Linked DNA regions of Homo sapiens. The protein of the gene in region 1 interacts with the protein of each later gene in a pairwise test. Each region holds a gene or a part of one and is shown in the gene's direction. Other genes may lie near its edges. The genes, in order: PDCD10, PLEKHS1, FARSA and FRYL.

The links.
Region 2: the proteins of PDCD10 (region 1) and PLEKHS1 interact in binary tests that used the Homo sapiens proteins (3 or more experiments, as listed by UniProt).
Region 3: the proteins of PDCD10 (region 1) and FARSA interact in binary tests that used the Homo sapiens proteins (3 or more experiments, as listed by UniProt).
Region 4: the proteins of PDCD10 (region 1) and FRYL interact in binary tests that used the Homo sapiens proteins (3 or more experiments, as listed by UniProt).

The regions. Positions count from the first base shown.
Region 1 is NC_000003.12:167,696,866-167,703,892, reverse strand, and holds part of PDCD10 (programmed cell death protein 10), read left to right. Parts: intron 1-6,766; coding exon 6,767-6,884; intron 6,885-7,027. UniProt on the Homo sapiens protein: Promotes cell proliferation. Modulates apoptotic pathways. Increases mitogen-activated protein kinase activity and STK26 activity. Important for cell migration, and for normal structure and assembly of the Golgi complex.
Region 2 is NC_000010.11:113,775,657-113,782,683, forward strand, and holds part of PLEKHS1 (pleckstrin homology domain-containing family S member 1), read left to right. Parts: exon of another isoform or gene 1-108; coding exon 109-210; intron 211-1,467; coding exon 1,468-1,603; intron 1,604-1,753; coding exon of another isoform or gene 1,754-1,984; exon of another isoform or gene 1,985-2,067; intron 2,068-2,336; exon of another isoform or gene 2,337-2,398; intron 2,399-4,945; coding exon 4,946-5,125; 3' UTR 5,126-7,027.
Region 3 is NC_000019.10:12,923,710-12,930,736, reverse strand, and holds part of FARSA (phenylalanine--tRNA ligase alpha subunit), read left to right. Parts: coding exon 1-125; intron 126-190; exon of another isoform or gene 191-209; coding exon 210-308; intron 309-395; coding exon 396-514; intron 515-1,889; coding exon 1,890-1,982; intron 1,983-2,073; coding exon 2,074-2,202; intron 2,203-2,279; coding exon 2,280-2,395; intron 2,396-5,562; coding exon 5,563-5,647; intron 5,648-5,733; coding exon 5,734-5,833; intron 5,834-5,929; coding exon 5,930-6,098; intron 6,099-6,210; coding exon 6,211-6,288; intron 6,289-6,471; coding exon 6,472-6,586; intron 6,587-7,027.
Region 4 is NC_000004.12:48,560,280-48,567,306, reverse strand, and holds part of FRYL (protein furry homolog-like), read left to right. Parts: coding exon 1-59; intron 60-1,615; coding exon 1,616-1,776; intron 1,777-2,263; coding exon 2,264-2,374; intron 2,375-3,204; coding exon 3,205-3,359; intron 3,360-4,318; coding exon 4,319-4,418; intron 4,419-5,670; coding exon 5,671-5,839; intron 5,840-7,027. UniProt on the Homo sapiens protein: Plays a key role in maintaining the integrity of polarized cell extensions during morphogenesis, regulates the actin cytoskeleton and plays a key role in patterning sensory neuron dendritic fields by promoting avoidance between homologous dendrites as well as by limiting dendritic branching.

The DNA.
Region 1 (7,027 bases):
TTATAATGATTACATGTTGAAATAATATTTTGGATGTACTATTAAAATAATTTTACCTGTGTCTTTTTACTTTTTTTTAAATGTGGCCGCTTAATATTACATAGGTAGCTCATAGTTGTTGCTGATATTACATTTCTGTTGTACAGCCCTACTCTAGAGACTTACTGTACATGTTGAATGCATTCTTTAATATAAAACTTTTATCTGGTCCTCCATCCCAAATATATATTATGGTGCCCAAAACTTTAATTTTTATTTTTGCATTCCTTCCCATCAGTAGCTCAAATAACCTGTGTTTTAGGTAAAGTATTTTAATGTTTAAATGTGGAATACATTTATATTTTAATTGGAGTTGAAACTATAAGCCCATTCTGCTTGATTTCTTCCATGTCACACAAGTTTATTGATAACACTCTTTTCTGGTAGCACAAGTCATGTCACTAGGTATCTCATATTACTTTAATAATCTACATTACGTATGTTAGAATAGAGCTTTTTTGATTTAATATTCTGTGATTCAAGGTGAGTACATATATATTTAGTAGCTTCATTAAATTGCATCCTGCCAAATCATTGGGTTAATGAAGCAACACCATAATCATTTTCTTTTTTTTTATTGTTGTTTTCTTCTTTGAGTGTCAGTTTGGCTTTGGAATGGCATATTTGGTCATTAGGGAGACATGATGCTATCTTAAGCATCTTTGTGGCCAAAAGAAGAAGGAAAAGTAATCTGTACAGTAGTATTGCTAAGAGAAAAGTCAATATTTCAGCTTTTCTAATGCCAGGAACAGAGAGAAGAAGACCCTGTCCGAAGGAGTAGATAGTATCTTCAATGACATTCATAAAATAAAATAATAAATTTCCTGAGGGTTTTTCTTGTAACATCCTAACATATAAGCTAATTATCTAACACTTAAGTACAATTATGTGACCGTGATAGATGTGGTTTGATCCATGGATAAAGTTTGTTGTCTATGGCATAGATTACTTATTTTGGAAGAAAACAAAGTAACTAATTTTACACTGATGTATTTTTAATTATCACATTTAGTTTGTTACATTTCAAGTGAAATTGAAGGAGGACATGTTAAAAATGTAAAGATGCTTGTATTTTTTAAATTACAACTTTTGAAAAAGATGAAAGAAACCTCACCAGTCATAAAATCTTTTATATTCATAATTCCAATTATTGGTCCGCAACGACAATAATTTTCATCATGGTTTTTGTTATTTGGAGGGAAAAGAGGATTAAAATAGTTTTTCCCAAGATAATACCATTGAATATTTTAATGTATATACAGTTAACCTTTGAACAGTGTGGAGGTTAGAGGTGCTGACCCCCTGCAGAGTTGAAGATTTGAGTATAAGTTTTGACTTCCACAAATCTTAACTACTAAAAGCCTACTGTTGACCAGAACATCTTACTGGTAGCAAAAACAGTTGATTAACATATGTTTTGTGTATCCTATATATTACATACTGTATTCTTAAAGTCACAGAAAAGAAAGTGTTATTAAGAAAATCATAAGAGAAAATATATTTATTATTCATTAAGTTGAAGTGGATCATCATAAGGTCTGCATCCTTGTCGTTTTCACATTGAATACGCTGAGGAGGAGGAAGAAGAGAAGGGGTTGGTCTTGCTAGCTCAGGGATGTCAGAAGTAGAGAAGGTGAATGGGGAGGCAAGAGAGGCAGGCACACTTAGTGTAACTTTACAGAAATATGTTTAATTTCTGACTTATTTGCTTTGTCATTTCTCTAAAAATGTTTCTGTACAGTACCAATCTTCCAACATTTGCTTTAGTTTCAGTGCTTGTATCAGAGAAGGGTCCATGTCATAAAGCAGCCTTGAATAAAGAGAACTCTTCTGCTGGGTTGTCTAATGTCCATTTGTTTTCTGGCACTCCTTTGTCTTCTTCCTCATTGTCCATTAGCTCTTAAATTTCTCTGATATCCATATCTTGAAACCTTTCATCCTCTACGTTTTTTTTAACCATATCTACAATCTCTTTCATGATTTCCGTGGCTCTGTTGTAAATCCTGTGGAGTCATGCACAACATGTGGACACAGTTTTCTCCAGCAGAAATTTATTGTTTTAGGCTCGATGGGTTTTTCTATAACAACAGTAGCATCAGTGGTGTAATTCTTCCAGACTTTCATGGTATTCTTTCTACCAAGGATTGTTGACAGCCATTTCCATAGAGGCCTTATGGTTCCATGTATAATGAGCTTTAAAGGTTCTTGATCCCCTGATGTAGAGGCTGATTTAGAGGTGTGGTGTTTTGGGACAAGTAGGCCACTTTGATGCCTTTCAGTGTTGAACTCATGGGGTTCTGGGAAGCAAGGGACATTATCCAGTATCAGAAGAATTTTTTTGAACAACAATAATAATAAAGGCTAGGTGCGGAGGCCCATGCCTTGTAATCCTAGCACTTTGGGAGGCTGAAGTGTGAGGCCAGAGGCCAGAAGTTCAAGACCAGCCTAGGCAACATAGGAAGACCTTGTCTCTAATTAAATATACAATACATATATATGTGTGTGTATGTATATGTAGATATCTCTGATATCTATATATATATCTGATATCTCAATATATATCTGATATCTGTAGATCTAGCTATATAGAGATATATAGGTATCTCTATAGATATATATAGACAATCAGAAGAACTTCAGAAGACCATCCCTTCCTGCCAAGATGCTTTCTAACCGCAGAAACAACGCATTGATGGTACCAGGCTAGAACAAGGGTTCTCTTTGTCTAGGTCTTCTTGTACAACCACAAGACTGGAAGCTGGTGTTTTTCTTCTCCCTTCAAGGCTTGAGGGTTTAGCAGCATTATAAATAAGGACAGTCCTGATCATAAACCAGACTTCATTTGCACAGAACAGTAGAGTTGTCCTATCTCTTCCTGCCTTAAATTCTGGTGCTCACTTCTCTGCTTTACTAATAAATATTCTTTGTGGCTATTTTTTCCTTCAGAATAGGGCACTTTGATCTGTATTAAAAACCTTTTCAGGCAGATATTTTTTTCCTCAAAGATTTTCTTAATGGTGTGTGGGGACTTATTTGCTGCCTCTTGGTCATCAGAATCTGGGTCTCCTGTTATCTTGACATTTTTTAAGCAAAACCTCTTTCTAAAATTATCAAACTATCCTTGGCTGGCATTAAATTCTTCAGCTTTAGACTTTCCTTTTGCTTTAAGTTGTCATAGAATGACTTTGCTTTTTCTTGAATCATATTAGGGTCTATAGGTATGCCTTTCTTATAGATATCCTGCACCAACATAAAAGCTGCATTTTCAACAGGAGACAAAAAGGTATTTCACAAAACATGCAAGGTTTTTGTACCTGCTGATGTAGCTGCAGCAATGGCTTTGTTTCATGAATTTCCTTTTTTTTTTTTCTTACAGTGAGTCTTAGACTGTATTCAAGCAATTCAGTATCATGCAATACACCTTCTTGTAATGTCATGACTTTGCTTCTTGAGCACACTTCCAACATCACTAGTGGCACTTTGTCGGGTCCCATGGTATTATCCCATGTTTAAAGTATTGCACTAAACACGATGAGAAAAATATGTGAGGGCTGGGAGGTATTACTTTGTACTGGGATGTGCAGTTTGCTGGAGAGATGAACTGTTCACATGGAGTTGATTAGAGTCACATGGCGTTTTAATCATATACTTACTAATACTTGAACTGACTGCAATAGCAACAGGAGGTGGCTTCAAACTTATTACATATACACGTGTACTACAGTTAATTTTGTGCAGTTATGATTTAATATTGCATCTGTATATTTGTTTATATTTCTTTTAACTGCAAATAACACCATGTACAGTCTGTTTGCGTGTGAGTTTTGATAAATTTTAACTTTTTAATAATTTGTATCTATTTTATAGTAAATACTAAAATAGACTAGTGGATAACTATATTTTATGCATTCATAACATGTGTTTTTATTATTTTTTTCACTACTTATAGGCTACTCAGTTTGTCTATAAGTTTTTTCAAATTGTTGCTGATCTCCAAAAATTTTTCCTATATATTTATTGAAAAGTATCTGCATGTAAATGGACCTGAGCAGTTAAAACCAGTTCTTCAAGGGTCAGCTATATTCTACTTGATTCCCTCTCCCCCTTATCCTCTATGAGAGGTTCCGATAGGTTGTCCGTCTTCCAGACTGAGAATCACTGATCCACAAGAGTGTATGTTGCTGCCCTTCGGTTTATTTTTTTCTTACAGCTGGATTCTTTACAAAGATTAGACACCCTACAGGGTTCATGTTGTATTCTGAGGGAAAACCTAAGAGTTGTAGATTGTCTCCCTGATTTAAGACCATATTTATTCATTTTGTCAGTCAGAGCCATTTGGTAAATTCAAGCTTTTGAAATAAGAATTAGCTTAACCAGGTTTTTAGCCAGGAGGTACTGAGACTACTCCTTCCAAACTATGTACTGAGGTACCTGGTGGCCCATAGCAAATTCAGAGGGGTGCCACGAAGTATTTTAAAATTGTGAAGGTGTACAGTGATACTCAACATCTGTTTGACACTGCATGGACTCCTAGCTTGAGATGGATTGCAATTTAGCATATTGGATTGTCCTTCACTGCTTTCATTGGTGTTAGATCATTGAGAAGCTGGACTTTTTGGCCAGTGCTATGATCTAACAGAAGTACCAGAAAAAAATATATCTGCAAGAGGAAATGAGAGGGGCAAGGTCCAATCTAAGACCAATGTTTGAGAAATTATGAAGTGCCCAGTAGGCACACACATCCCAGTAATAAGTGACAATAGTTATTTAAGAACAGAGTAAAAATTGTTTTTTTCAATTTATGTGTATTATTTTTTTAAAGGCTAGGTAGTTAGGACACTATACTTATTAAGTTGTTTAGACCTAAGTATTTAATAAACAGCACTGTGAGGTGTATCTTTTGGCACTAAGGACACTGAAAACTGAGAAAGTTAGGGACCTTTGTGAGACTTTTGTAATGCTCTAGCTTTAGCATTTTGGGGTCCCAGACCAGCTTGGTATTGAAAACTTTATTCTCAGACTTTCAGCATTTTAACCTTTCAGTACTTTATTATAACTTAATCAGAGATATGCTTTTCTTTTTCTGTCCCCTGCAAGCACATAGAGAATGTTCCCCCTCTCCCCAAGATAATTCATTATGTAGGAAGATTTATTGCTAGATAAGATAAAGTATTGTTACTGAATGCTACATTATATGTAATTTTGTGGCAGTTCACCGCATTAATGCTATAACAACACATCTTAAGCCATATTTGGACATCTTATAAAGGAAACTCCTTTTTTAAAAAACACAGTTTTTTTTGTTTTGTTTTGTTTTTAATACGAGGTCTTATTCTGTATCATAGGCTGGAGTGCAGTGGCATGATCATAGCTCGCTGCAGCCACGAACTCCTGGGCTCAAGCAGTCCTCCCATCTCAACCTACCAAGTAGCTGGGACCACAGCCACACCCCACCATGCCTGGCTAAAAAGTAGATTCTTTTTAAAATATATATCCATGGAAGGAAAAGTCAACATAGGCTGTAAAAGAAACAGGATTCAGTCAAACACAGTTTATTGTTATTAATCATCTATCAAAATGATTTTCCTGAATAGTATCTGACAGCATTTAAAATGATCCGAAGATTGGAATAAATGCGTGTATTTTCTTTTCTCATTTCATCCCACAACCCTTCAGTTTTTGATACTTGAGATCTAATGAGAAACAAGATGTTATAATGGAAAGAGCAATAGGAAGAGAAGAAAACTGTATCTGCAGTGATAATCAATGGAATTGAAGAGGCGGAGGTTAAGTGTGCTTGACACATAAGGAAACAAAAAGATTGCCATCTGATTAAGATCGTAAATTGTGTTTCTATTTTGCTGTTTAATATTAGGGCAAAAAGGAAAGAAAATCATCAGCATAATGATTAAAATTGGCAGGCATCCTACAGGAAACAAACATCAAGTGTGATTACAGAATTTACTGGGAAAAACTGAAATCTGAAGATTAACTCTGGCTTTGGTAAACTCAGAACTCTATGCCCAGTCTTGAAATGGCTAGAAAATTTTAGTGTCTTGGGGAGTCTAAGTAACATAGAACCAATGCAAACTCAATGAAACAAGCTCAAAAGGTAGTAAAAGGTTTCATGATGTTCTAGAAACCAGTGAAGGAAATATTCTTGCTACAAAAATAAAATAGGAAATGAAAATCATTGTGTGGGAAAATAGTTAAGGTATTATTATATAGGTTCAGTAAAACCTTCAAAATAAATCCTTTTTTGTTTTTCCTGGCATTCTCTTAATATAAATGGAAAGAATATGCAAAACACTAGTCAGATGAGTTATTGCTTGATCCTTGAGTTGCAGTATTAGCACATTAAAAAAAGCTTAAATTCTCAAGATATTTAAAGTAATGAGAATAGCAATTGATAGATTACTAAAACATATATAATCCTTAATTCTATCTTTGTTATTAGTTCAATTGCAAAAGAGTATAAAGAAGAGTAGAAAATACTAAGTTCTTTCTGTTCAAATGGAAAATGGAACCTTAGTCATAGTAAAGAGTCGGGTGCACAAGCTCTAACAAAGCCTTAGTGAATGCTATCATGACACCTGCTTTACAAAGATTTCTGCCCTTAAAAGTTATCAGTGTAAGACGCTCCCAACAGATTCTAAACAATTAAACTTTGGCTTTAAAATGTTGATTCCTTATCTGTATTTCAAAACTAGTTTTCTCTTTATTATAGGCTGAAAAAGAAAATCCAGGTCTCACACAAGACATCATTATGAAAATTTTAGAGAAAAAAAGCGTGGAAGTTAACTTCACGGAGTCCCTTCTTCGTATGGCAGCTGATGATGTAGAAGGTAACGGACAGAAGAACCTTGTTTAAGTTATACAATTGTTAAATAGCACTTCCTCTAAATCATTATTATTTGACCAAAGGATCTTCCTTCCCTACTGTTTTCCCTCCCTCCCTTTCACTTATGATGATGATGGTGGTGGTGGT
Region 2 (7,027 bases), on another chromosome or scaffold:
CCTGGACAATGTCATCTCAGAAATAGAGGCCAAAAGTCTACTCAGAAAGTACAGTTGAGAGCCAAGGTCAGTTGCCTGATGTGACTTTTACAAATGTCTTGTTCATAGTAATATCCCCGATGAAAGCCAAGTGGAGAAACTGAACGTTTTCCTTTCTCCTCCTGATGTCATCAACTATCTTGCTCTCACAGAAGCCACAGGACGGATATGGTAGGTTGGAGATTTGACTGTTGTGGATTATAAATGGGGCTGGAAGCTTTGAAGAGAACAATTACATCTTGAAACAGTGTATTTGGCAACACTGACTAGGTTTGGGGCGGGGGAGCTTGGACTGTTGACTGGCTGTTGTTACAAAAAAATCTTTGAGGCAGAAATCAGGGTCTTGTTGTGCAGAAAAGTCAGCCTGGAGGTGAGCAGGGGGAATAACAGGACCCAAAAGTTCAGGAAGCAGCCATTTCTGACTCCTCTAAGGGAGGAAGAAGGGGCTGGGATACAGGTGGCCCAAGGACATCATTTCCAATCACTGTACAATGAGTATTTGATGAATGAGTGAAATTAGTGAAGTCAACAAGAATCAGAGGCCTAAAAGAAGAAAGCACATCAGCTTCTAAGACTTCCAGACACAAGGTTAAAAAAAAACAAAAAACAAAAACTGCTAGTCACAGACACAGACACAAAAGACTGTGTGGCAGAGAATTTTCTTAAAGCAATCACTGTCTATTTGATATGGCATTTTTTTAAAACACTTTGTAATTTATTTTGATGGAAGATTTCATCTTCATAAGGGAAGAAAACTCTTTAATGTAAACACTACACATTAATTGTCTTATAAGTTCTAAGAAGGGAGGAAACACACCTTCCATTTTTTTAAATAGTCCACAATCTAAGGCTCAATACACACTTGACTGAAACTGTGGACTCCTCCATAACTGAGCTGCTACATTCCTTAATTCATTTATTTGTTCATTATATATTCATTGTATAATCATTACACCCTCACTTCCAACAAACGCTGAGCACTCTTTCTTTACTTGGAACCATGGGGTTTTAAAAATTAAAAAACAAAACAAACAAAAAGGTGACATCATACTTCTGGGGTCATGTAACCTGGTAAGAAAAAGACAGCCACAAAAACAAGTAAATGTAAAATGCATTTTATTTAAAAATGTAACAAATCAGGTACTCACACAATGTAATAGAAGTCCAGGGGTAGGGGAGATGAATTATAGCAGAGGAATGGGATGTAGGATTTCATGGGCCTTTGTAAGGGTGGTATAATTTGAGCTGGGCTTTGGAGGAAGGGTTAGGCTCCTATTGTAGTGACAGAGGAAACAATATTCTAAACAGAAGGAGATAGTCTACTTCAGAGGTGGTGCCACGTGACCTAGAATCAGGAGACCCTGCGTGCCCTGCCCTCCTGGCCAGCTGAGCCTCACACTGGTATTGGATGTTGTATTCCCACTGCAGTGTGTCTCAGTGGGAAGGCCCCCCACGTTTGGGATGCATATTTTGCCACGGAGATCATCTTCTGGCAGTGAATGACCTGAAACCCCAGAGCCTGGAGGAGGTCTCCCTGTTTCTTACCCGGTCCATCCAGAAGGAGGTGAGTCGTACTGACCAGCCCTGAACAGGGCAAATCAGTACCAGAAGGAAAAAGATCAGGGTCTTAGATGGAGTCTGAGAAGTACCCTGAATACAAATAAGGTTCCTCATTCTTCCACCATCAAGTGCAAATAACAGAATGTGCTTTCAGGACTCTTTCAGGATTCTTTCATATCAAGTAGCATTTGGAGAAGGCACTGAGCTAAGAGACAGAGCACCTGGGTTCAGGACCTCAGATCGGCATGATGTAGCAAAAAGAGCTTGCATGGAATCAGACTGGTGCAGGGATTCCAAAACAGCTCCTTCAACCAATTTGTGCCTCAGTTTTCTTTTCTGTAAAATTATGACTAATGATGGTGCTGGTTGTTGGATAATTAAATGAGGTAATATGTGTAACGTGCTTACAAAGGTGACTGGCACATATTAGGTGCTCAATAAAGCTACTAGTTACTTTTACTTCTACTACAACTGACCATGGAATGTTATTCAAGCCCATTTTTTAAAGCCTCAGTTTCATTATCTCAGAAATCGTCACAGCCCTAACTTCCTCATAGAATATTGCAAGAATTAAACATAATATGTGGTGCTGGGCACGGTGGCTTACACCTGTAATCCCAGCACTTCGGAAGGCCAAGGCAGGAGAATCAATTGAGCCCAGGAATTCAAGGTTACAGTGTGCTATGATTGCACCACTGCACTCCAGCCTGGAAGACAGAGCGAGACCCTGTCTCAAAAGAAAAACAACAACAGACCACCCCTAATATTATATGGGTATGCACTAAGTATGTTGTTTTTTCAAGGACTAGCTATTGTCCTGCATATCACTGCAGTCTTCATGTGTTAATTCCTTCCCTGGTCTACTTTTCTTTCTAACTAGCCCTGTGACCTTAGGAAATTCACTGCCTTCTCTGGGCTTCAGCTTATTCTCACTAAAGTGAGAGGCTGGTTTTCAAACTGTGCTTCTTGCATCCCCAGGATGGAGGTGAAAGGAGAGGAGAGGAAGGAGAGAGTATGCTGGGTCTTCAACTGGAGAAGCTTACATTTATCTTTTATCTTTTATGAAAAAAAGATTAGTCCAAAATATTGGACTTTCCTGTTAGCTTTCCTTAAAAAACAGTTCTTTGGCTTCAAATTTCTGAAAACCATTGTATTAGATGATTTCCAAATTTCTTCCAGCTCTAGGAATTTTGTGATTGTGTAGCATATCTATATTAAGAACACATCTTATCTCTTCTGCACTACGTAATAATCCCATTGGTCACACAAATTGTGCCATCCCTATTACTCATTACCCTAAATGAGTAATTCCAGTGAGGATAAGTGAATGAGTTGTCTAAGATATATAACTAGTTAGTGGCAGGGCAAGTACACATTCGTTCACTTTCTTTTTTTTTTTTTTTTTTGAGACGGAGTCTCGCTCTTTCGCCCAGGCTGGAGTGCAGTGGCGCAAACTCGGCTCACTGCAAGCTCCGCCTGCCGGGTTCACACCATTCTCCTGCCTCAGCCTCCTGAGTAGCTGGGACTACAGGCGCCGGCCACTACGCCCAGCTAATTTTTTGTATTTTTAGTAGAAACAGGGTTTCACCGTGGTCTCAATCTCCTGACCTCGTGATCCGCCCGCCTCGGCCTCCCAAAGTGCTGGGATTACAGGCGAGAGCCACTGCGCCCGGCCCATTCACTATTTATTGAGCATCTGCTGGGTGCTGTATACTGTGCTAAATTCAAGAGCTACAAAAATGGCCTCAGCCTGAGCTGAAGCTCACAGATTAGTGGATGAAGCAGGCATGTTATGTGCTACTTGCTATACAGTGTGTGCCCTGAGATATGAACACAGGGCCATAGGATCACAGAGGTAGAATGGAGTAAATCTACATGAAGGAGGCCAGGAAGGTGTCTCAAAGAAAGTGGTGTTTGGCTTAGGTTTTGAAGACTGGATAGGAGACTGCATGGTGGAAAAGAAGTAGATTTCAGGGCCCTAGTCCAACAATCTGGTAACTATAGTACATTTTCTCTGCCAAAGATCCACACTGGGCTGGGTGTGGTGGCTCACACCTGTAACCCCAGCACTTTGGGAGGCGGAGGTGGGCAGATCATGAGGTCAGGAATTCGAGACCAGCCTGGCCAATATAGTGAAACCCCGTCTGTATGAAAAATACAAAAAATTAGCTGGGCATGGTGGCGGGTGCCTGTTATCCCAGCTACTGGGGAGGCTGAGGCAGGAGAATAGCTTGAACCCAGGAAGCGGAGGTTGCAGTGAGCCGAGATTGCACCATTGCACTCCAGCCCTGGGAACAGTGTGAGACTCTGTCTCAAAAAAAAAAAAAAAGGATCCACATACACTGGGGCCAAGTGGTCAATATAAGCTTCTGAACTCTTCTGAAAGTTACCAAACACTACTCTGACCCAAAGATCCAGGCATTAATTCAGAAGCCAAGAAAAGGGTTTTTGCCTGTGAGCAGATCCAGGAACTGTACCTGGGTGTTGCTGACTGCAGTTTATCCTGACTGCCTTTCTAGACTGTGGAGTCATTGCATTTCTCTTGTGCTCGTTCTGCCTTCCCTTTCTAATTGATAACAGCCCCTACATGCTATTGAGAAATATGCAGTATTCATCTTCATGATTATCTGGAAGATAGAAAATTCCCTTACTTTCCCACTGCCTCCATTCCTGATTTCTTTGTGTTGATGGGTATCCACTGCTCTTTTAAAATTCAAACACATAGTCCCTGGAAGGAAAAAGAATATTGGAAAAGGGAGATATGGAACCAAAGGAAGAACAGCCATTGGCCCTTGATGTTTTAAAGTGCCTGAGCCAATCCCATTTACTCTCCTTCCTGTTATGCTACAGATGAGGGAAGTGGAGGTTGGGGTGGGGATGGGGCAGGGATTGGGAGGGGAGAGAACTGAGATTTTCAAGGGAAGGGGAGAAGGTGTGTGCAGGGGAAGGACATGACAGGTTGCAGGAGAAACTGATCAAGTTTAAGTTTCCTCCCAATCTTGTCTGGGGGAGTCCTGTCTGGTGGTTTCATTTTGATTCACTTGTTTGAAGAGGCCTTTTTAATTCTTGGTGCAATTGGACCCCTTAGAGCACCATCAATGCTACCTGGATCCTTCCTTAAAAGCTCAGCTTCCTTTTCAGGCCATGGATGCCAGAAAATAAAAATCCACCTTCCACCTAACTAGCCAAGTAAGTCATCCCTGTCTATTTCTGGCCCAGATATTACAGTTCACTGCAGGACTTTCTTCAATACCAGCTCCCAAGGGTATGAATGAGGACAGATTGGGAAGCAACAATCTTAAAGATAATCTTTAGCCATTTAACTTTCTTCTTTCTTGTGTTTTAGAAATTAAAGCTTACCATCGGCAGGATCCCAAATTCAGAGACATTCCATGCTGCATCCTGTATGTGTCCCTCAAAATGCCAAAGTGCTGCACCTTCTCAGCTGGATAAGCCTAGACTGAACAGAGCTCCCAAGAGGAGTCCGGCCATTAAAAAGAGCCAGCAGAAAGGAGCCAGGGAGTAACGCACCCCAGACCCATGGCAGCAGAACCAGGATGGAGCTGGGACTGTCCAGCTCTGCCCCCTGCTGCTGCCATGTGATAGGAGACAGTCGGCACCCCCCTCTGAATTTCTGCATCTGCATCTTAACAATGGGGATGACTATCCCCTCTCTGGTTATTGTATCAGAGATGCTAAGAGGGTCATGTGGCATGATTGGAGAACCTGGGGGAATTGGAAGGCCTTATTATCTCAGCTATTGTCCCAAACACCACAGACACAGATTGGGTCAGTCCTTCATGTAATACATGCTGTGTTCTGTGAGGATGTGGTCCACACAATTCCTTCTTTGTTAAGGGACATACAGTTGCAAATACTCACTGCATGAAGGCAAGATTCCCAAGGGAGATGTGATAGCTGATCAGGCTTCCCAGACACCTCCTTCCCAAACACCTCCTTCCCAACACCTCCTTCCCCAACATCCTTCCCAACACCTCCTTCCCAACACCTCCTTCCCAAACACCTCCTTCCCAAACACCTCCTTCCCAACACCTCCTTCCCCAACACCTCCTTCCCAAACACCTCTTTCCCAAACACCTCCTTCCCAGACACCTCCTTCCCAACACCTCCTTCCCAACACCTCCTTCCCAAACCCCTCTTTCCCAAACACCTCCTTCCCCAACACCTCCTTCCCAACACCTCCTTCCCCCTTCCCCAACACCTCCTTCCCCAACACCTCCTTCCCAACACCTCCTTCCCAAACCCCTCCTTCCCCAACATCCTTCCCAACACCTCCTTCCCAACACCTCCTTCCCAAACACCTCCTTCCCAAACACCTCCTTCCCAACACCTCCTTCCCCAACACCTCCTTCCCAAACACCTCTTTCCCAAACACCTCCTTCCCAGACACCTCCTTCCCAACACCGCCTTCCCAACACCTCCTTCCCAAACCCCTCTTTCCCAAACACCTCCTTCCCCAACACCTCCTTCCCCAACACCTCCTTCCCAACACCTCCTTCCCCCTTCCCCAACAACTCCTTCCCCAACACCTCCTTCCCAAACATCCCCTTCCCAAACACCTGCCTCTCTTCAACCCCACAGGCCAGAGTGCTGAGACAGAGTGGCCTTTTGGATTCAATAAGTATCTTGTTCTCTTAAAGACTCAGCAACGATTTTAGAAGTCGCAGCAGTTTTACATCACATGCAGCCAAGATCAGCTTGCTCTACAAGCAATAACAGAACTACTTAGCACTTCAAGGTTGAAAGTTCTTCACTAATGGATCCATTGACTAATTGATCCTGGAAGGCCAAAGGAATAAAATTCTTTTATATAAATAGGAAAACAAAGGCAGAGAGCTAAAGCACTAATCAAATCGGGGGGTGTTAGAGCAAAAACAGGCTTCAGAAAGAGTATTTTACCATGCTTCACATGGAAAAAATCGAGCCCCGGAGCGATGAAAGGCATATTTTCTTTGTTTCTCCAAGTTTCATAACCGTTCAGTTGCAGAACCAAGAATCTAAAACCAGCTCTGGGAAACAAATGTCCAGATGCCAGCCTCATAGTTGAACTTGGATTTGAAAATACCTTCAGCACTTAGAAGAGACATTCAAATACATTTCATTTCCTGTTACCCAGATTGTTCGGAAAGTATTAAAAATTTTTCATTTACATGCTGATACGGTTTGGATCTGTGTCCCTAACAAATCCCATGTCGAGCTGTGGTCCCCGGTGTTGGAGATGGAGCCTGGTGGGAGGCAGCTGGATCGTGAGGTCGTGGGGGTGGAGTTCTCACGAAGGAGTTAGCATCATCCCCTTGGCGCTGTTCTCGTGATAGTAAGTTCTCGTGAGATCTGGTTGTTTAAAAGTGTGCAGCACCTCTCCGCTCACTCTCTTCCTCCTGCTCCTGCCGTGTAAGATGCCTGCTCT
Region 3 (7,027 bases), on another chromosome or scaffold:
AACTTCGGTCCACCAAGCACTGGGAGCTTACTGCGGAGGGCGAGGAGATTGCCCGGGAGGGCAGCCATGAGGCCCGTGTGTTTCGAAGCATTCCCCCAGAGGGCCTGGCCCAGAGCGAGCTTATGGTAGGAGCTGCGGGGTGAATGGGGAGTGAGTGATGGGATGAAGGTGGCCCTCGTGCCCCACTCACTGCAGCCTCTCTTTTCCAGCGACTGCCCAGTGGCAAAGTGGGCTTCAGCAAGGCCATGTCCAACAAGTGGATTCGGGTGGACAAGAGTGCGGCTGACGGGCCCCGGGTGTTCCGAGTGGTGCGTTCCTGCGGGCTGGTCAGGGGGCAGGTGGACGGGCACATGGGCCCCTGGCCCTCATACCCCTCACACTCCTTATCCTGGCAGGTGGACAGCATGGAGGATGAGGTGCAGCGGCGGCTCCAGCTGGTCCGGGGGGGACAGGCTGAGAAGCTGGGGGAGAAGGAGAGGAGCGAGCTGAGGAAGAGGAAGCTGTTGGCTGAAGTGTGAGTGGGTGCCCCCTGCAGGCTCAGGCCCCCACCACCTGCGAAGCATGGTGGAGGCATGGTGGGAGGGAGACATCTTGCCCACACCAAGCACAGGTGTGGCCAGTTTCCTCCCAGCTCGCTTAATGCCATAGTTGTCAAGCCTACGTGCCTTGGGGTCTTTGCCCATGAGGACCCTTCTGCTGAGAACTGTTTTCCCTCTGATCTTCAAGATAGGCTCCTCATCAAGTCTCTCTCCTGTGTCCCCTTAAAGAGGCCACCCTGACAGCCCTCCTCTCCCCTTGAGTTCCATGAAGCCCATCGCCCCTAGTCTTCATCTTTGGTGCTTGTTCATTTCTTTCACTGTCCTTAGTGTGGTCCAAAGTTTAATGAACACACACCAGACAGGCCTCTGGAACCTAGATGGGCTAGGGGCCGTCCTCTCACAGGACAAATGTCCCCTTTGAGCAGACACAGAGTGGCAGAGAGAAGAGACTAGAGCTGGGATGCCTAACTGAAGTTCGGGCTCTGTCACTTAACTAGTTTTATGACCTTGGCCAAGTCACCTGGCCTTTGCTGGTCTCCGTTTCCTTATCTATAAAATAGCCTGGGCCAAGTGTGTGGCTCACGTGTGTAATCCCAGCTACTCAGGAGGCTGAAGTGTTAGGATCACTTGAATCCATGAATTCAAGGCCAGCCTGGGCAACATAGAGAGACCCCCATCTCAAAGAAAAAGGGGCCAGGCACGATGGCTCATGCCTGTAATCCCAGCACTTTGGGAGGCCGAGGCGGGCAAATCACCTGAGGTCAGGAGTTCGAGACCAGCCTGGCCAACATGGTGAAACCTCGTCTTTACTGAAAATACAAAACTTAGCCGGGTGTGGTGGCGGGTGCCTGTAATCCCAGCTACTCTGGAGGCTGAGGCAGGAGAATCGCTTGAATCTGGGAGGTGGAGGATGCAGTGAGCTGAGACCGTGCCATTGCACTCTAGCCTAGGCAACAAGAGCAAAACTCTGTCTCAAAAAAGGAAAACAAACAAACAAATAAAAAAAACTGCCCTCTTTCCGGGGCTTGTGGGGAGACTTTTGCAGAACAGAGCCTGGCACAGAATAAATCTGCTAGACTTTCCCTAGTATCATCACTCAGTCGTGTACTTAGCACCTTGAACAGACCCTGGCACACATTAGGTTCTCAGTAAGTGTTGAATGAATCAGTGAGTGAATACAGGGAGATACAGCATGGTCACATAGGAGGATTTCAGGTAGTGATAAATGTCAGGATGGAAATAAAGCAGAGTGACTTGGTAGGTAGCATGGGGATCCTCATCAGACGGGAGATCAAGGAAGTCCTCTAGGAGGAGATGGCAGTGGCGTCCCCTTCCTTCCCCTGGCCACAGGACTCTGAAGACCTACTGGGTGAGCAAAGGCAGTGCCTTTAGTACCAGCATCTCCAAGCAAGAGACAGAGCTGAGCCCAGAGATGATCTCCAGGTAGCAGGCAACCCCAGGGTCAGGGCAGGTGGGAGCTGGGGCAGGGGGCAGGGGCGGGCAGCCCTTACCAGGCCCTTGCATCCTCCCCCAGTGGCTCTTGGCGGGACCGGCCCTTCAAGCCCTACAACTTCTTGGCCCACGGTGTCCTCCCCGACAGCGGCCACCTTCACCCGCTGCTCAAGGTCCGCTCCCAGTTCCGACAGATCTTCCTGGAGATGGGGTGAGCACAGGGCTGGGGGCGGTGCCTGGTGCTTCTGCTGGGTACAGGCAGGGCAGTCAGGCTGTGTCTCCCACCAGGTTCACCGAGATGCCGACTGATAACTTCATTGAGAGCTCCTTCTGGAACTTTGACGCCCTCTTCCAGCCCCAGCAGCACCCAGCCCGTGACCAGCACGACACCTTCTTCCTTCGAGGTGGGTCAGCCCCTAGGGCCTCCCTGAGACATGAGAGACACCAGGCCACGGCGGAGCCTTTACAGGATGGGCATCCCATTTGATCAAATTAGGTCTAGAACTGGGCATGGTGGTGTGCACCTGTAGTCCGGCTATTTGGGAGGCCAAGGCAGGAGGATTGCATGAGCCCAGGAGTTCAAATCCAGCTCAGGCAACATAGGGAAGAATCTACCTCTAAAAAAATTAATTGAGTTAAATTAAAGTCCATCCTTGTTGGATGTGTCAAGCTCTGTTCTCATTATGCCACCTGCAGTCTTTTTTTTTTTTTTTTTTTTTTTTGAGACAGGGTCTCACTCTGTCGCCCAAGCTGGAGTGTGCAGTGGCATGATCTTGGCTCGCTGCAAACTTTGCCTCCCAGGTTCAAGCGATTCTCCTGCCTCAGCCTCCCGAGTAGCTGGGATTACAGGTGCATACCACCATGCCCAGCTAATTTTTGTATTTTTAGTAGAGATGGAGTTTTGCCATGTTGGCCAGGGTGGTCTCAAACTCCAGTCTGCCTCGGCCTCCCAAAGTGCTGGGATTACAGGCGTGAGCCACCGCACCTGGCTTTTTTTTTTTTTTTTTTTTTTTTTTGAGACAGTCTCATTCTGTCGCCCAAGCTAGAGTGCAGTGGCACGATCTCAGCTCACTGCAATTTCCACCTCCTGGGTTCAAGCGATTCTCCTGCCTCAGCCTCCTGAGTAGCTGGGATTACAGGCACCCGCCACCACGCTCGGCTAATTTTTGTGTTTTTAATAGAGATGGGGTTTGCCATGTTGGCCAGGCTGGTCTGGAACTCCTGACCTCAAGTGATACTCCCGCCTCAGCCTCCCAAAGTGCTAGGATTACAGGCGTGAGCACCACGCCTAGCCCAAAATTAATGAATTTTTGTTTTGTTTTGTTCTCACTATGTTGCCCAGGCTGGTCTCAAACTCCTGATCTCAAACAGTTTTGCCTCAGCCTCCCAAAGTGCTGGGATTACAGGCATGAGCCCCCACACCCTGCCTGCCCCCATGTCTTCTTTGGGCATTCCAGGCCGTGCACACCTCAGGGCCTTTGCTTATGTTCCGTCTTTAGCCAAGAGCTGTTTTCTCCCAGATCTTCAAGGCAGGCTGCAGCCTCAAATCTCTGCTCACGTGTCACCAGAGACAGGCCAGCCTAACACTCCCGGGCTCACCCCGAGTTCTACAGAAGCCCTTCTCCCCTAGTGTTCATTCTTCTGTCCCATTTCTTTCTTTCATTGCCCTTAGCACTGTCTGAAATGGAATGACTTCCCACAATGGGGTGGCCTTCCTGACCAAGAGGGCAGTTGAGGTCATTGGGTGCCGGCTTACCTGGCCAGAGGAGCAACATCATTCTTGTCATTATTGTCATAGCACCCAAAACTTACTAAGCACTCATCACATACTAGCCACTATTCTAATCTTCCTGCCAACTACTGGAAGCAGTACTGTTACCCCTTTTTACAAAGAAGGAAACTTGGCCAGCCTCAGTGGGTATAATCCCACTGTTTGGGAGGGCAAGGGAGGAGGATCGCTTGAGCCCAGGAGTTTGAGAACAGCCTAAGCAACATAGAAAGACCCATCTGTACAAATAAAATTAGCTGGGCATAGTAGTGCACGCCTGTAGTTGCAGCTACTCGGGAGGCTGAGGTGAAGGATTGCTTGAGCCTGGGAGTTTGAGGCTGCAGTGAGCTATGATTGCATCACTGCACTGCAGGCCAAGCAACAGAGCAAGACTTTGTCTCTTTAGGCCGGGCGCGGTGGCTCACGCCTGTAATCCCAGCACTTTGGGAGGCTGAGACGGGCGGATCGCGAGGTCAGGAGATCAAGACCATCCTGGATAACACAGTGAAACCCCGTCTCTACCAAAAATACAAAAACAATTAGCCAGGCATAGTGGCGGGCGCCTGTAGTCCCAGCTACTCGGGAGGCTGAGGCAGGAGAATGGTGTGAACCCTGGAGGCGGAGCTGGCAGTTAGCCGAGATCATGCCACTGCACTCCAGCCTGGGTGACTGAGCGAGACTCCGTCTAAAAAAAAAAAAAATTTTGTCCCTTTAAAAAAAAAAAATAGGCCGGGCGCGGTGGCTCACGCCTGTAATTCCAGCACTTTGGGAGGCCACGGTGGGTGGATCGAGACCATCCTGGCCAACATGGTGAAATCCCATCTCTACTAAAAATACAAAAATTAGCTGGGCATGGTGGCGTGTGCCTGTAGTCCCATCTATTCAGGAGGCTGAGGCAGGAGAATCACTCGAACCTGGGAGGCAGAGGTTGCAGTGAGCCGAGATCGCGCCACTGCACTCCAGCCTGGGCGACAGAGCGAGACTCCGTCTCAAAAAAAAAGAAAAAATAAAAAGGTCGGGCGCGGTGGCATGATCCCAGCACTTTGGGAGGCCCAGGCAGGCGGATCACTTGAAGTCAGGAGTTCGAGACCAGCCTGGCCAACATGGTGAAACCCCACGTCTACCAAATATAAAAAATTAGCTGTGTGTGGTGGTGCACTTCTGTAATCCCAGCTACTTGGGAGGCTGAGGCAGGAGAATTGCTTGAACCTGGGAGGAGGAGGTTGCAGTGAGCCAAGATCATGCCACTGCACTCCAGCCTGGGCAACAGAGCAAGACTCCATCTCAAAATACATACATACATACGTACATACATAAATAAAGCCCAGGTGCAGTGGCTCATGCCTGTAATCCCAACACTGGGAGGCCGAGGTGGGTGGATCACCTGAGATCAGGAGTTCGAGACCACCCTGACCAACATGGCGAAACCCCATCTCTACTAAAAATACAAAAATTTCCCGGGTGTGGTGGCAGGCACCTGTAATCCCAGCTACTTGGGAGGCTGAATCAGGAGAATTGCTTGAACTTGGGAGGTGGAGGTTGCAGTGAGCCAAGATTGAGCCATTGTACTTCAGCTGGGCCAACTGAACAAGACTCTGTCTCAAAAAAAAAGAACCCAAAAAAGCCACACACAAATGAGAAAACTGAGGCACGAGAATCACTTGAACCTGGGAGGCAGAGGTTGCAGTAAGCCCAGATTGCACCACCGCACTCCAGCCTGGACAACAGTGAGACCCTGTCTGAAAAAAAAAAAGGGGTGGGAAATGCTCGTTGACTGACCTGATGTTGCTCTGTCCTGCCCAGATCCAGCGGAGGCCCTGCAGCTCCCAATGGACTATGTCCAGCGGGTCAAGCGGACCCACTCTCAGGGCGGCTACGGCTCACAGGGGTGAGGCAGGACTTACCTGGTATGGAAGGGAAGGAGGCTGGGGACCCCTGGGCCATTGCATGGACTTCCCACCTTCCCTCCTGAAGGTACAAGTATAACTGGAAGCTGGACGAGGCCCGGAAAAACCTACTGCGAACCCACACCACATCAGCCAGCGCCCGTGCGCTCTACCGCCTTGCCCAGAAGGTGCGGTTGGCCCAGGCGGGGGCCCCAGTGGGGAGAGGGTGCTGTCAAAGGGACCTTCTGACCCATACCTGGGCCTGGCTCGGTTGTCACCCCTAGAAGCCCTTCACTCCGGTCAAGTACTTCTCCATCGACCGCGTATTCCGGAATGAGACCCTGGACGCCACGCACCTGGCTGAGTTCCACCAGATCGAGGGCGTGGTGGCGGATCATGGTCTCACCTTGGGCCACCTCATGGGCGTTCTGCGGGAGTTCTTCACCAAGCTGGGTGAGCAGGGGGGCAGGGGTGGGCCATGGTGGTGAGGCAGCGGGCAGGTGTGTTGATCACCAGCATTATCCTCCAAACCCCTGCTCTCCTGCCCGCCCCCCACTTCCTGCAGGTATCACGCAACTCCGCTTCAAGCCAGCCTACAACCCATACACAGAGCCCAGCATGGAGGTGTTCAGCTACCACCAAGGTCAGGGTAGGCCCTGGTACTGGGGTGGGAGGGAGGTCTCAGGCTACTATGGTTTGGCCTGGGTCCCCCCATTGCCATGCCTGTACCCCACCTCCCAAGCTCACCACCTAGACCCAGAACCTGTACCAGCAGTGCCCAGAAACTCAACACGCACTGCCCGTCTTTTCTGTCCTGCCTCTGCAGGCCTGAAGAAGTGGGTGGAGGTCGGAAACTCGGGGGTCTTCCGTCCAGAGATGCTGCTGCCCATGGGGCTTCCCGAGAACGTGTCGGTCATTGCCTGGGGCCTCTCCCTGGAGCGGTAAGTGCCCAAGTGGAAACTCGGGGTGTCCAGCTGCCTCAAATAACTCTCCAGGTATAGGGGCCTGCGTGGTTTCAGCACCACCCATTCATTCATCCAATGGACAAAACTTTCATCGTGAGTACAAACTGAATGCTCAGCCCCGTGCTGTGAACATGACAGCTTATGTCCCTCCCTCTGAATCTGGGGTCCCAGTGGAGCGAGAAGGATGATAACTAGCAAGACCAACAAGTACATCAGGCCAGGCGTGGTAGCTCATGCCTGTCATCCCAGTGCTGTGGGAGGCCAAGGCAGGAGGATCGCCTGAGCCAGGAGTTTGAGATCAGCCTGGGCAATAGAGCAAGTCTCCGCCTCTACAAAGAATAAAAACAGGCCAGGCGTGGTGGCACATGCCTGTAATCCAAGCACTGTGGGTGGCTGAAGCAGGTGCATCACCTGAGG
Region 4 (7,027 bases), on another chromosome or scaffold:
GAAGGATATACGATGCCATTTTAGTGCCTTAGTGGCGAATATTATTCAGAATGTTCCAGGTATTATTTTCAGTTTCTTAAAGCATTATTGAGTATTAAGGAACCGTCATATTTTTTCTTTCCTTGAGGTTTAATAATCTAAGTTGATAAAGTAACGTATGAACATACTGGAAAAATATGTCAGCATAACCTGGATGGCTGGAGTTTGTTTTCCCTTTGAATTATTGTCACTGATTAGAAATAAAAAAGCAACCCAGCATAGAATTTCAGTAATAATCAGGATACTGACACAAAAACCTGGAGAAATCAATAGAATAAGCTCTTTAGGATAGCCTTGTTTTAGATGCAATAAGCAGAGTGCAGTGTCTCATGATAATTGAGAATAAAATTAAGAAGATACTTTTGAATAATGGGAAAAGAGTATAGGCCATAAATACAAAATGTAACAAGGATACCGTGTTACTGATTTACCAGATATGTTCCAATTATTGAGTAGGGTCTATATCGACAGATACTGGTTTAGATACTAGGAAGATTAATATACACAATTACATTTTTAAAAGTTAAATTATTTACAACTGTAAGAAGTAATGTGACTAGCCTTTGGCATACACTATAAGTGTTTCTTTTTCTCTTTGAAAAATTAAAGTCACATTGTTATTTTGAATAGTATATACAGACAGTGGATACCTAAAGAACATGGGTTGTATTTTATAACAGGGTCATTAAGCACTTAATTACATATGTCAATTTCAACTGTAGGAGCCTTGTTTTCATCTTTGAAAGGAAAATGACACTGTCAAAGGAAAAGAGCATATTTTTTTCGAAATTTTCTGATCTGAAGCTCACTAATATAAAGATGTGGTTTAGTCTATTACTAAACACTTTTTTACAACTTCCACATTGGTTTATTGTGATACTGCTGAGTTTCTTCAAGAAGGATAGATGTAGAGAAATTATATAGTAGAATTTCAAAATGGGGGAAAAAAATCCTTGGAGATCATTTAAACCAGTGGTTTTCAAACTTTGGTGTTTCTCAAAGCCCTGAGGTTCTCTGATGCCATCCGCAGAAAGCAGCAGAATGTGTTTGGACACTAGGCCTGAACTGCCCTTTTATCTGTTTTATATACTGAGATTACATGTAAGCTTCCTTTAGCAGGAAAAGGCAGCTTTCCTGCTGAAAAAAAAAAATAGAAAGTTTGAAAACACGTATCTCGTCCAAAGCCCTTACTTACCAGTGAACCAAGATACAGAGGTGTGTCTGTGTTAAAATCTTGGCCAATCTTACCATATAGCCAGTGATAGCCCAGGGAGAAATGGACTCCTGGCCCCACCTCTGTGCCAGCCTTCATGTGCCATTGAGCCTGCCATGGAATTTCTGCTTGCAGAGATGCTCTATGTCATGTAATGCTGGGACAGGGTGACACAGACTGCAACTTTGTTTCTGTGATTTGCATATATATAAATGATCCCTGCTACCGCGGAGGTTTTTGATAGTTTAAAATGAAAACTTCTGCTTTCTTTTTTACACTATTACACATTCAATAACATGTTGGTATAAAAGTTAAAGCAAAAAGAAATGGAAATAAATGTTTTCTATCTTTTTTTATTCACAGTGCACCAGAGAAGAAGTATTTTTCCTCAACAGAGCCTTCGTCACAGTCTATTTATGCTGTTCAGTCACTGGGCAGGTCCTTTTAGCATCATGTTTACGCCCTTGGACAGATACAGTGATAGAAATATGCAAATTAATAGACATCAATACTGTGCGTTAAAGGTATTTACTTAGAAACCTGATTTCTTTTTTCTTAAGAGCAGAGTTAAGTATTTTTAAGTCTCTCAGTCACTAGTATTAAAAAGAGGATCTGAGAGTATTAAAATGTTTTTCTGCCATATTCAAAACTTATACCATAAGTTATATTTAAATACATAAAATACAATGAAAAACAGTTCCAGAATCTACTCAAATTTGATCACCATTATCTTAAAGAACTTAGGATTACTTGAAAGAAATGCCTTTTTTCCCTTACTTAATTACTTTTTCTTGGTCTTTTTATCTTCCCTTCCAGTACTGTTCAAACTCCATGTCTAATTTGGTATCATATTTACTTACTCATAATAAATTTCTCAGTTTTAAAAAATAATTTGTAAAGAAAAAAGATTAAAGTATTGTGACTAGATAAGTATTTTGCCTCTTCTCATTAAGCAACCAACATTTAACCTCTTAAATTTGTTAAATGTAATTCTAATATTATTATTTGAAGGCTATGTCTGCTGTACTGTGTTGTGGCCCTGTTGCAGATAATGTAGGACTTTCATCAGATGGCTATTTGTACAAATGGTTGGATAACATTTTGGATTCTCTGGACAAAAAGGTAATTATGACAATTTCCTTAAAGGTTCATAATAAGTTGTCATTGTATTATTTGCAGTTAATGTATGTTGCACTAAAAACAAGTCTTTTAAAAAAATAAGATAGGTTAGGATCATATGCAAAAAGCATATTATATAAAGTTAAATAGGATCCCATAATGTAAAAACGTTCCAATTCTTATGTATCATTAATTTGAATAATTTTCATTTCCCTTTTTATATTATAGGATTAATACAGTGGTATGTGTCTCTCAACAGGGTTCTAAGTCAATAAATAAAATACCAGCATAGAACATATTGAGCTGCATGGGAAAAATATGTTATTTGCTATGTTTCATTTCGTTTTTTTAACCACTTTCCATTTAATCATTCCTCCTTGCCCTCCACACTCTGCCTTCCTTACTCTCATATTGTACATATACAGACTTCACAATTTAAAATAGGACTTACATTTTTTCCCCTCAGAACAGTTTTTCTATTGGGTTATCAAAAACAAGAATAAAGCTTGATAAAAATAATTGGAGAGGTTAATGACTCATTTTTCTGAAAGCACCTAATCACTATTCATATTCATTAACTGCCTTCAGGGCTCTGTTGGAAGACAAAATCATACTAGAGAGGCTCGCGTAAAAAGCGAGAGGCCAAATTCAGTTCATCTGTGTGGTTTTTTCTGCTGGCTGAATAAAATGAGAGGGAGGTGAACAAAAGGAGATGGAATTTTTCTATTAATTACAATGAATATATGCACTATATTACTTTAGTAAGAACTATAGGGAAATAGACAAAAAATATATAACGTTCTCTCTCGGGCAATTTCACAACCTTTACCTAGGTTCACCAGCTGGGCTGTGAAGCAGTTACGTTGTTACTGGAGCTGAACCCTGATCAGAGCAACCTGATGTACTGGGCTGTGGACCGCTGCTACACGGGCTCCGGGAGGGTGGCGGCCGGCTGCTTTAAAGCCATTGCTAATGTTTTCCAGAACAGGTACTTTAGATACAGGTTTTTTGTTTCATTTTGTTCTGTTTTCTTAAAGAAAAGTTTTTCTTTTGAATTCAAAAATAGGAAGACACCAGTTTAGTTGTCCTTCAGTATCTGTGGGGGATTGGTTCCAGGACCCCTCTCAGATCCCAAAATCCATGGATGCTCTAGCCTTCTATATAAAATGCTGTAGTATTTGTATTTACTCTATGCAAATCCTCCCGTATACTCCTTTTTTTTTTTTTTTAGACATGGTCTCGCTGTCACCCAGGCTAGAGTGCAGTGGCATGATCATAGTTCACTGTAACCTCAAACTCCTAGGCTCAAGTGATCCTCCCACCTCAACCTCCCGAGTAGCCAGGACTGTAGGCTCCCACTACCATGCCTGGCTAATTTTTAAATTCTTTGTAGCGACGAGGTCTCACTACGTATGTTGCCCAGGATGGTCTTGAACTCCTGGCCTCTCACTTTGGCTTCCCAAAGTGCTGGGATTTCAGGCATGACCTGCCGCGCTTGGCCTTTCCCTCATATTTTTGATCCACAGAGGGTTGACTGTATTTTCTTTTCTTAAGCTCAAATGCAGCCGTGTCTAACCCTTTGAATGTGAGGACCTTTTTGCTTATCTGTGGTGGTGGATATTACAAAAATTATGCATGGATTTTTTTTTTTTTTTTAGTTCATCAGCTGTTTTTAGTGTATTTTATGTGTGACACAAGACAATTCTTCTGATATGGCCCAGGGAAGCCAAAAGGTTGAACACGTGTGCTCTAATGGAATTTAACCAAAATAAGGACAATTATCACCATGCATCTGTTGTTGTACCTATTGCCTTGAAAAAACCAAGTCTCCTCATAGGCTTAGAAGATAGATGCCTATAAGCCTTGCCCTTTGCATATCATATTTATTAAATGGTGCAAAAGCCTCTAAACATTGTTATTTACTTAATATGTAAAATTTATTCCTAGGGATTATCAATGTGACACAGTGATGCTTCTAAATCTGATACTGTTTAAAGCAGCTGATTCTTCTAGAAGTATCTATGAAGTTGCTATGCAACTTTTACAGGTTTGTAAACATGTGAATTTAAATATTTTTTTACTCAGGATTTAATGAAGCCCAATAATTTAGTCTTGCTATTAAAGCATACTGATAATAGTATTTAGCTTTATTTATAGTAAAGAAGTTATGGTATCAAGGCCTAATTATTATTAGAAGTATAAGACAAAGATAATATAGATATTTAAATTTATAAGTAATGCAGACTATTCCTAAGTGTATTGTAGAAGGATTATTTATGATAATGTGTGTGTATGTGTATGAAGGTACTTATAAATATGTGTCCATGTAAGTATTTCTGTTCAGCAGATGAGAACAATGTGTGTCCAAATTTTTTTGGAGAGCCATGTGAAAAATAATTAGCTCTTTTTATCATATTCTCATGTAAATTTTCTTTATTAGGTTGAGGAGAAATAACTTAGAAAGTTAACTTACCAAACACGGATATATTGTTAGTATGCAATACTTAACTAATTCATAATAGGGCAAGATTCTTCCATCTTAACCAAGGGCTAAGAATAGGATTCAAGTAGGTGCTTTTTCCAAAGGCTCTGAAGTGGTTCTGATGCCAGTAGATCCATCTTAGGAATTATACCCTAATGCCTTTGTTAATTAAGAGGAAAGTTCAGCAGTACAGCTCTTTAAATAGTGTAATGTCGAAAGGTCCTCCTTGAAGGGTTTTTTTTTTTCACTTATGCATATATTGTACTACCATATTTTTGTGCGAGAAAAGTGGTAAATCTTTTTCAAGTAATCGTATATTAAGTTGCTGGAGTTATTTTCAGACTGTGTTACTAACCTGGATCATTGGCATTAAATACGAGGAATGTAAATTCTTTTAGTGAGAAAGAGTTTTTGTTTGTTTTGTTTCATTTTGTTTTTGAGATAGGGTCTCACTCTGTCACCCAGGCTAGAGTACAGTGGCACAGTCATGGCTCACTGCTGCCTCTACCTCCTGAGCTCAAGTGACCCTCCACCCTCAGCCTCCTGAGTAGCTGGGACCACAGGCACACACCACCACATCTGGCTAATTTTTTAATTTTTTTGTAGAGATGAGGTCCTGCTATGTTGGCCAGGCTAGTCTGGAACTCCTGGCCTCAAGTGATCCTCCCACCTCTGCCTTCCAAAGTATTGAGATTACAGGCATAAGCCACTCCACTCAGCTGGGGAGAAGAGTTTTTTTAAAAATTATAAAATTATAGTTAAACTTTAGAGAACCCATAAAATCTTAACCTAAGTTGATGGAATCACATTCCTATAGATTCTGGAACCGAAGATGTTTCGCTATGCTCACAAATTGGAGGTTCAGAGAACAGATGGAGTACTCAGCCAGCTGTCTCCTCTACCACATCTCTATTCTGTTTCATATTATCAGTTGTCCGAGGAACTAGCAAGGGCGTATCCTGAGCTAACTCTCGCCATATTCTCAGGTATGATCAATGAACTGGTTAGTAGTTTCTATTTGTCAATCATTTCTTCAGAAACAATTTTTAGAAAATTATAAATTTATTAAATTACAGGTTAAATCAAAACCAGACATGTCTTTACATAGGAAATATTTTTTTCTTCAATAAGAACTCTTAATTCTGATCAGTCACAATATTTAGGTTTTTCTATCAACGGCGTCCTTATAGGGTTTTATACCTGACCTTCCCTTCGCTCCCTACTCCATCAAAAAGAAAAAAATACAAGAGGGACGACTTTTCACATGTGACTTAAAAGTATTTCTTAGTAGACATAGGACTTCTTGAATACATTGTATTTTGTGTATTGGCATATGTTTAATAATAAAAATAGGCAGGGATAAAGTTATAGGCAGTTTTCCGTGAGCGAAACCCCTAACCATAGGAGCAGGTGGTACAGTGCCTCGAGCAAAACTCTTTCTAGTCTCCCACATGTTGCTTGTCGCCTACATCAAGATCTTGTTCCAGTGTAAGTACTGGCCATGCTCCAACACTGGGATCTGGGAGATTGCAGAGTTCTGCTGTGGGTCCTTTATTTCATTTGGGCTCAAGAGATAGTGGACTTAGCTGGCTTGGGATCTTTGCACAGCACCTATTTTAGCAATAGAAATAGTTTATTTCCCATCCCTAATTGACCTGAGTGGGAGAAAAAAGCAATAACAACAACTTAAATTCTCATAACATTTAGTTCTTGAAAGCAGTTGACCTGTTTGGTTTGCCCTGGTAGTTGGTAGCAATGCCTCTTCCTTTTTCCCAACCCCCGCATCCGTGACAGCCCTTCCAAGATGAATATGAGTGATCATCAACACAAAATAGCGGCCGCCGTGAACACAGATTTTGTGGCTGCTGAGCTGCTGCTAGAGGCTTTTGCACAGAAAGTAGAGGAGTCCAGCTGGGTCTCAAGAGATCATGTAACTGTTTAGAATGTCATGTCATCGCCTAGGATGTGTGCTGGTACAGGTGTCCACCATGCCCACACCCCCACCACCTTGTCATTCTTCCTTCAGTTCTCTCTTCAGACACTCTTGTCCTTAGCATCAGCTAATTTTAACTCCTTTGCTTAAGATAGTTCATTCTAAACCAAAACAGCCTCTCAACCTGACAAATTCCATAGCTAACCTACATTTTCACTTTCACTGTTTCTAAGGCAAGACA